2 linked regions of the Homo sapiens genome follow. The protein of the gene in region 2 purifies or fractionates together with the protein of the main gene of each other region. This does not show direct contact. Each region holds a gene or a part of one and is shown on either strand. Other genes may lie near its edges.

The links. Proteins that work in one complex are often made in the same cells at the same time.
Region 1: the proteins of SH3GL3 (region 2) and ATIC purify together in Homo sapiens (affinity purification with mass spectrometry; one large-scale study listed by BioGRID and IntAct). This does not show direct contact.

The regions. Positions count from the first base shown.
Region 1 is NC_000002.12:215,346,552-215,350,206, forward strand, and holds the end of ATIC (bifunctional purine biosynthesis protein ATIC), read left to right. Parts: intron 1-207; coding exon 208-390; intron 391-2,542; coding exon 2,543-2,698; intron 2,699-2,984; coding exon 2,985-3,104; 3' UTR 3,105-3,213; downstream 3,214-3,655. UniProt on the Homo sapiens protein: Bifunctional enzyme that catalyzes the last two steps of purine biosynthesis.
Region 2 is NC_000015.10:83,586,837-83,590,491, reverse strand, and holds part of SH3GL3 (endophilin-A3), read right to left. Parts: exon of another isoform or gene 3,517-3,655; intron 3,510-3,516; coding exon 3,406-3,509; intron 3,135-3,405; exon of another isoform or gene 2,979-3,134; intron 1,831-2,978; coding exon 1,721-1,830; intron 1-1,720. UniProt on the Homo sapiens protein: Implicated in endocytosis. May recruit other proteins to membranes with high curvature.

The DNA.
Region 1 (3,655 bases), on a different chromosome or scaffold from region 2:
ACTGAAGAGGTATAAATAGTAGTTATAAACAAACCTCTTACTCCACCCCTTTTAATGACTTAAAAATTATTTATATTTCTCTTATTTTGGCCTGATATGTTCTTCCACAAAACTAATAAATAGGTTTTGGAGAATGTGCACAAAAGATCCTTTTGAGAAGAAAGTGTCTTTGGAAGAGGTGTTCACTTTAATGTCTGTGTTCCTCAGGTTATCGGCATTGGAGCAGGACAGCAGTCTCGTATACACTGCACTCGCCTTGCAGGAGATAAGGCAAACTATTGGTGGCTTAGACACCATCCACAAGTGCTTTCGATGAAGTTTAAAACAGGAGTGAAGAGAGCAGAAATCTCCAATGCCATCGATCAATATGTGACTGGAACCATTGGCGAGGTGAAAGACTTGGCATTGGGTTCTCGGCTGTGTTAATATTCAGTTCAACCCTTTATGTGTAACAGATTTTAACTTCATCACCACACAGAGAAAAAGATACTTTCATTGAAATTCTATGTTGTCTAAAATTGATCATTGAAACTTCTTACACATTTCTCATGTTCTTCTGTCTCATGTAACTTTCTTCATTGTTTTTGACCCCTTTCTGAAACCACAGTCCTCTGTCTTTTTAAATTGCAGCCTTGGTGTAGGTTTGTATATTTGTACTTCCCCTGTTGATTATAAGCTTTTGATGACAAGGACTGCTTTTCACCTACGTCGAGGTGCCTGCCACCACGTCATGCATGGTGCTTGCTGTCCGATGGGTCTGTATTCAACATTAAATACAAATTGCCTGACGGCAGGTAACCCTGGGGTCTTCTCCCACCACATTTTCTACATGTGCCATTAATAACTTGATACATTTTGTTACATTTCATGTTCTTCTGTTTGAAGAAGGTATGTGGGAACATTACAATCGCAAACGTTAGGTAGGTAGCCCGCCAGAAGAAAAGATCTAGCCCAGTTTCTGGACATATTGCGTGCCTAACAAAATGCTGGATGGAAAACAGAAGGCTGCTAATCAAATACTAGATGGTCTTCTGAAGAGCCAATTGACTACCCTCAGTTTTTTATTCAGGAGCAGGAATCAACATAAGTGTCATTGAAGAGTGAGGCTGCAGAATGTAACTGAAGTCCTTAAGATATCTTTTTTTTTTCAACTTTGATACTTGGATTTTTCTGTTTGATATTACCAGTCAACCCCTGCTACTAGTCCTGAAAGAGTCCTGGAAGTGAACAAGAATAAAAGTATGTCAAAGCTAAAACATGACCCAAGATAGAAGCACCTTGTAAAATATGATTAACTGTCTGTGCCACTATGACACAATACTGCAGGCTGGGTAACTTATAAACCATAGACATTTATTTTTCATAGTTCTGGAGGCTGTGAAGTCCCAGATCAAGGTACTGGTGGGCTGAGAGTCTGGGGAGGCCTACCCTCTGCTTCCCAGATGGCACAGCCCTCTCTGGAAAGGACAAACACTGTGTCCTTACTTCACAGAAGGGGCATACTTCCCCTGAAGCCCTTTTATAAGTCTGTAATCCATTCATGAGGGCCCCACCCTCATTGCCCAATAACTTTCTAAAGGCCTTATACTTCTTAATACTGTTGCATTGGGGATTAAGTTTCAACATGAATTTTGGAGTGGATACACACACTCAAACCATAGCAAATATTATGAATTGTGTTTTGTCTACAACTGCCTTTACATTTAGAATAATTTTTGTATAAATGTAGTTAAAGAACTACTCATCTCTTTCCTAGATTGGATATAGAGGGTTTTTTTGAAAACCCTTGGAACACAATTTTTATTTGCTTTCTTTGCTACAGTAGTACCAAAGCAGTAGATTTAAATTAGACGGTAGTCTAATAGACATAAAGTAGTAGATACGAAGTAGATTTAAATTAGAGATTTTAAAACAGTGTATTTTTATGTAAGTAGCTTAGCCAAAAATAAAAAAAATTACATATGTACTTGGAATAAACTGATTTGGAAAGTAAAATGGTATTATCTTTATTTGGTAAACTTAGAATCACTTTTTTTCCTTAATGAAAATATTTCTAAAAGCATCAAAGAGATTCTAGATATGTGAACTTCCATGTAAATAATGGTCATTATTTACAATTAAGAAATCCTGGCCGGGCGCGGTGGCTCATGCCTATAATCCCAGCACTTTGGGAGGCCGAGGTGAGTGGATCATGAGGTCAAGAGATTGAGACCCTCCTGGCCAACATGGTGAAACTCTGTCTCCAAAAATACAAAAATTAGCTGGGTGTGGTGGTGTGCACTTGTGGTCCCAGGTACTTGGGAGGCTGAGGCAGGAGAATTGCTTGAACCTGGGAGGTGGAGGTTGCGGTGAGCCGAGATCGCACCACTGCACTCCAGCCTGGTGATAGTGCAAAACTCCGTCTAAAAAAAAAAAAATAATAATAATAATAAAAACAAGTCCTAAGAAAAATGCCCAGGTGCTTTCTGGCATGGTGATTTGCACCACATAGAACTAAAGACGATGTCAGACCAAGCTTCTTCCTTTCTCTCTCCCCGCATAGGATGAAGATTTGATAAAGTGGAAGGCACTGTTTGAGGAAGTCCCTGAGTTACTCACTGAGGCAGAGAAGAAGGAATGGGTTGAGAAACTGACTGAAGTTTCTATCAGCTCTGATGCCTTCTTCCCTTTCCGAGATAACGTAGACAGAGCTAAAAGGGTAAGTATGGAATTGGGTGCATTTGCTTAGAGTTGAGCATTATGTAGAAACTGTTTCAGAAATCCTGCTTTTGATTTTTAAAAGGTGTGGCAAAGTGATACAGATCAGTAATATTCAGAGAACCATTTGACTTCTCCATTGGGTGGATGGAGAACCCAAATCCTGTTGTTATTTTGCCTTTTTGACTGAGTGTATCTTTGTTAGCATATGCTTTTTAGAGGGGGATTTTGAGTTTTGCAGGTTTTTACATAAAATCGCGTTTTGAAAATCAATATACTTCCCCCAGAGTGGTGTGGCGTACATTGCGGCTCCCTCCGGTTCTGCTGCTGACAAAGTTGTGATTGAGGCCTGCGACGAACTGGGAATCATCCTCGCTCATACGAACCTTCGGCTCTTCCACCACTGATTTTACCACACACTGTTTTTTGGCTTGCTTATGTGTAGGTGAACAGTCACGCCTGAAACTTTGAGGATAACTTTTTAAAAAAATAAAACAGTATCTCTTAATCACTGGATCCATAGTTTTTGGTAGTTGTGTTTTATGTTAAAGATGCAGGCTCTTTGAACTGACACATGACACATAACACATAAATGAGGAATTCCAGAGCACCCCTGCCTACCGGAGCTCAGCCCATCCCACAGCACTGCCCGTGTGAAACATAAACATTAGCAGGAACCAAACGAGCTGAGCAGCCAGAGGACATGGCACAAGTCACTGTGTACAGGCCACACTTAAGGACTGGGAGTTATACCCATCTTAAAGGTGGAGTATTGATGTAAATTACCTAGAATTCTTCTGCATGGGAGTTGTATATTAAAGGTCCATGTTGCCTCCTAGGGGAGTCTTCTCATGCCGTTTTTGTTTGTTTGTTTTTCATTTTTTTAATTTGTTATTTTGAGAGGGAGTCTCAAAAAAATAGCTCTGTCACTCAGGCTAGAGTCCGTGGCACCGTCTTG
Region 2 (3,655 bases):
GGAATTTCTTTTCATTTAGAAAAATAAATCCTTATGATAAAGATCTAAATATTAAGAAAAGATTATTCAAAGTAGTAGAAAACTGTAGAAGAATAACTTCAGGGATAGGAAGACTTTTCACAACAGGGCACAAAATGTAATCATGACAGGGCACAAAATGTAAAGTCACAAGCAAAAGACAGACACATTTGACTACATCAAAATAAAAGCTTCTGTATACTCAAAGCAAAACTAAACAAAGCAAACAACAGCAAAAACAACAAAGGGACAAGGCACTCCAAAAACAAAGTTTAAAGATAAATGACAAACTAGGAAAAAAATTATTAATATCCTCATATGGAAAGAGCTCCTATAAAACAATAAGACAAAGCAAACTACTCCCAAAAAACACAAATAAATGACATAAACAGACAATTCAGACATAAGGAAATACAAATTAAAATATAGAAAAGAAAGTTCACCCTCACTAATAATCATGAAAATGCAAATTAAGACTGGATACCATTTTTTTCTCATGAGTGCTTGGCAGAAATGGAAGTCTACTGGCATGGGTGTGGGGAAGCAGGTGTTCATGCTTTAATAGTAATGTAGCCAGCACAGTGATAAAGGATACTCACTGTAGCAAATAACTGGAAAAAACCTTAACGTCCACCAATAGGGAAATGGTATAATAGAAAACTATGAAGCTGTTAAAACAGTGGGATAGATCTATATGCATGATATGGAAATAACTCGAAGAAACAGTGATACATTTTAAAAAGCAAACTGCCAAACAATATGCCTAGTATAATCTCGCATTTAAAAAACAGAAAAAAGGCTGGGTACAGTGGCTCATGCCTATAATCCCAGCACTTCAGAAGGCCGAGGCAGAAGGATTGCTTGAGCCCAGGAGTTGCAGGCCAGCCTGGGCAACAAAGTAAGACCTTGTCTCTACAAAAAATAAAAAAATTTGCCTGGCAGGGTCACATACACCTGTAGTTCCAGCTACATGGAAGGCTGAGGCAGGAGGATTGCTTGAGCCCAGGAGGTCAAGGCTGCACCGAGCCATGTTCATGCCATTGCACTACAGCCTGGGTGACAGAGCAAGACTTTGTCTCAAAAAAGAAAAAAAGAAAAAACAGAAAAAAATCCAAAACGCTGTTTATGTGTATATTTATGTACCTCAATAGATATGATAATAGTTATACCAAATTTTTTTAACAGTGGCTACATCTAGGAAGCGAACTGCGATGGTGTAGGTGATCACAAGAGACTATAGAATGACTTATACCATTAAATTTTTTTTTCTGTTTGATTATTTTACCAATTTTTTTCTGTTTGATTATTTTACTAAAAGACACATTTGCATCACTTGTTTAATAAAAAATAACGATGCAGCACTTAAGATAGTATCTAGCATATAGCAGTTGCTCAAAAATGCTAATTTCAACTTAAAAATAAATTAAGAAAATATTTTCAAAGAGTTAAAAAAATAAAGGATGATGTAGCCATAATGGTTCTATGGCCAAGGTTCTAAATGCTACATTATATAAGTGATAGAATTCTTCCCCAGGGAACAGAAAAAAGGGGCACGTTTAGGGGAAAAGGGAATTTACCAAACAACCAAAGAAAGATATCCAGGGTCTGTGTGTATTCACTGACCCAGAAACAAGCAGTAAATAAGTGTTTCTAGAAGTGCTTTACTAAAGGCACACTTAGCATATTAGAATGGTCAACTTACCTGTCGTCTTCACTACAGAGGTGGTGGAAACTCCATTGAGCTCACTAGAACTCCTTTTCACAGGCCTTGGCTTGTATTCTCGTCTGGGGACACTGGATGCAGCTGATATTCTGTAACACACATCGTAAGATGAGCCAGACATCTGATGTTGAAAGCTTTCCAAACACACATCCTCTCTGCCTTGTTGAGCACAGGAACTTAGGTTACAGCCAGTGGTCATGAAAGGGACGATTTTTACACACTGACTCTTGAGTAGCCCGAAGTGATGGAGGTGATATCACAAATGCAGTTTTTCAACTCCCTATTTGAGCTTGTGAGTGAAATTCATCTTGAAGAAGACTAATTGGGCCAGCCATGGTGGCTCATGCCTGTAATCCCAGCACTTTGGGAGGCCAAGGTGCTCACCTGAGGTCAGGAGTTCGAGATCAGCCTGGCCAACATGGTGAAACCCCATCTCTACGAAAAATACAAAAATTAGCCAGGCATGGTGGTGGGCGCCTGTAATCCCAGCTACTCGGGAGGCTTAGGCAGGAGAATCTCTTGAAACTGGAAGGTGGAGGCTGCAGTGAGCAGAGGTTACGGTGAGCCAAGATGGCGCCACTGCACTCCAGCCTGGGCAACAGAGCACGACTCCATCTCAAAACAAAACAAAACAAAACAAAAGACTAATTTTCTTCATCAAGTCTCTGAGGCATCCAGCAAGTGCCTGGGACGCGGTCGGCACCCAGTGATGGGAGCTGCCTTCTCCCTCACTCTACTCTTATAGATTATGATAGAATTATGAAAATACACTCCTGTCAGTAACAGGTAAACTATCTGCCTGCAGAAGTGGATGCTTCAGGGACTGAACACATCTTTGTCTTCCCTAGGTAACTACGTCATTGATTTAAGTAAAAATCCCTCCAAATTTATGCATTACCATAATCCTGTGTAAAACAATTTTCTGTTATCAAACCTAATTTAAAATATTTTAATAAACAGGGTTGCCATGCAGACTATATATAATATTACTAATTTTCAGAAAAGTATAGACTACATCTATGATTAAATTCACAAGGAATGCAGAAACCTTTCTTTGATTGTTCAGAAGATATTTTTGACTCTTTCAATACCTGTCAATATTATGAACACAGCCTGAAATTTGTCAATATTTTGACTCTTTCAATACTAGTCAATATTATGAACATATCCTGAAATTCGTACTGGTGAAGTGAAGGCACTACCTTTTTTTTTTTTTTTTTTTTTTACAGATATTTACATATTTTCCATACAGCATCTCACTTTTTTCCATAGCTCTGGATGTTTTCCATCCCTTTGTGAATGGGGAGTTAAACTCTCATCAAATCAGCAATGAAGCCAGGGTAGTTCTGTAGGGGTTGATGTCCCAGGTGGGAGAGCAACTTGGTTAGTTGCCCTAAACACGGGTCACAAAAAAAAGGGATTTAATGAAAAGAAAAAGGAGAAAAGCTGCCAGGTCCCTTTTCCCAGTTCTATCCTACTGGCCAAAGCCAGTACTTATTATCTCAGTCCCATCCCACATCCAACCATGAAAGCCAGTGAAAGAAAATTCAAAACAGAATGAGGCAGGGGAAGGGGGAGATGGAGAGATGGAGAGACAGACAGATGGATTTCAATAGATGTTACCTCCGCAGCCCTTGGCTTGTAAGAAACGTGGAGGTGCTTACCGCATCTGTAGCTTGCTCTGCAGCTCCTGCAGAATCTCTGTGGACTGTCTGTGATAGTCTAATGCTGCCTCTATGAACACAGCCAACTGGCTGACTTGTTCTACCTGCAGCAGAAGTGCAAAATTATTCCATGGAGGCCCGAGCCTGTGTAATGTCCAGAGAGAGAGGAGACCAGCAGCAAAGACCTAGCTTTGCAGGGAAGACCAGTGTCTGCCTTGGTCCATTTCATTTAATTTCATGTAGGAGCTCT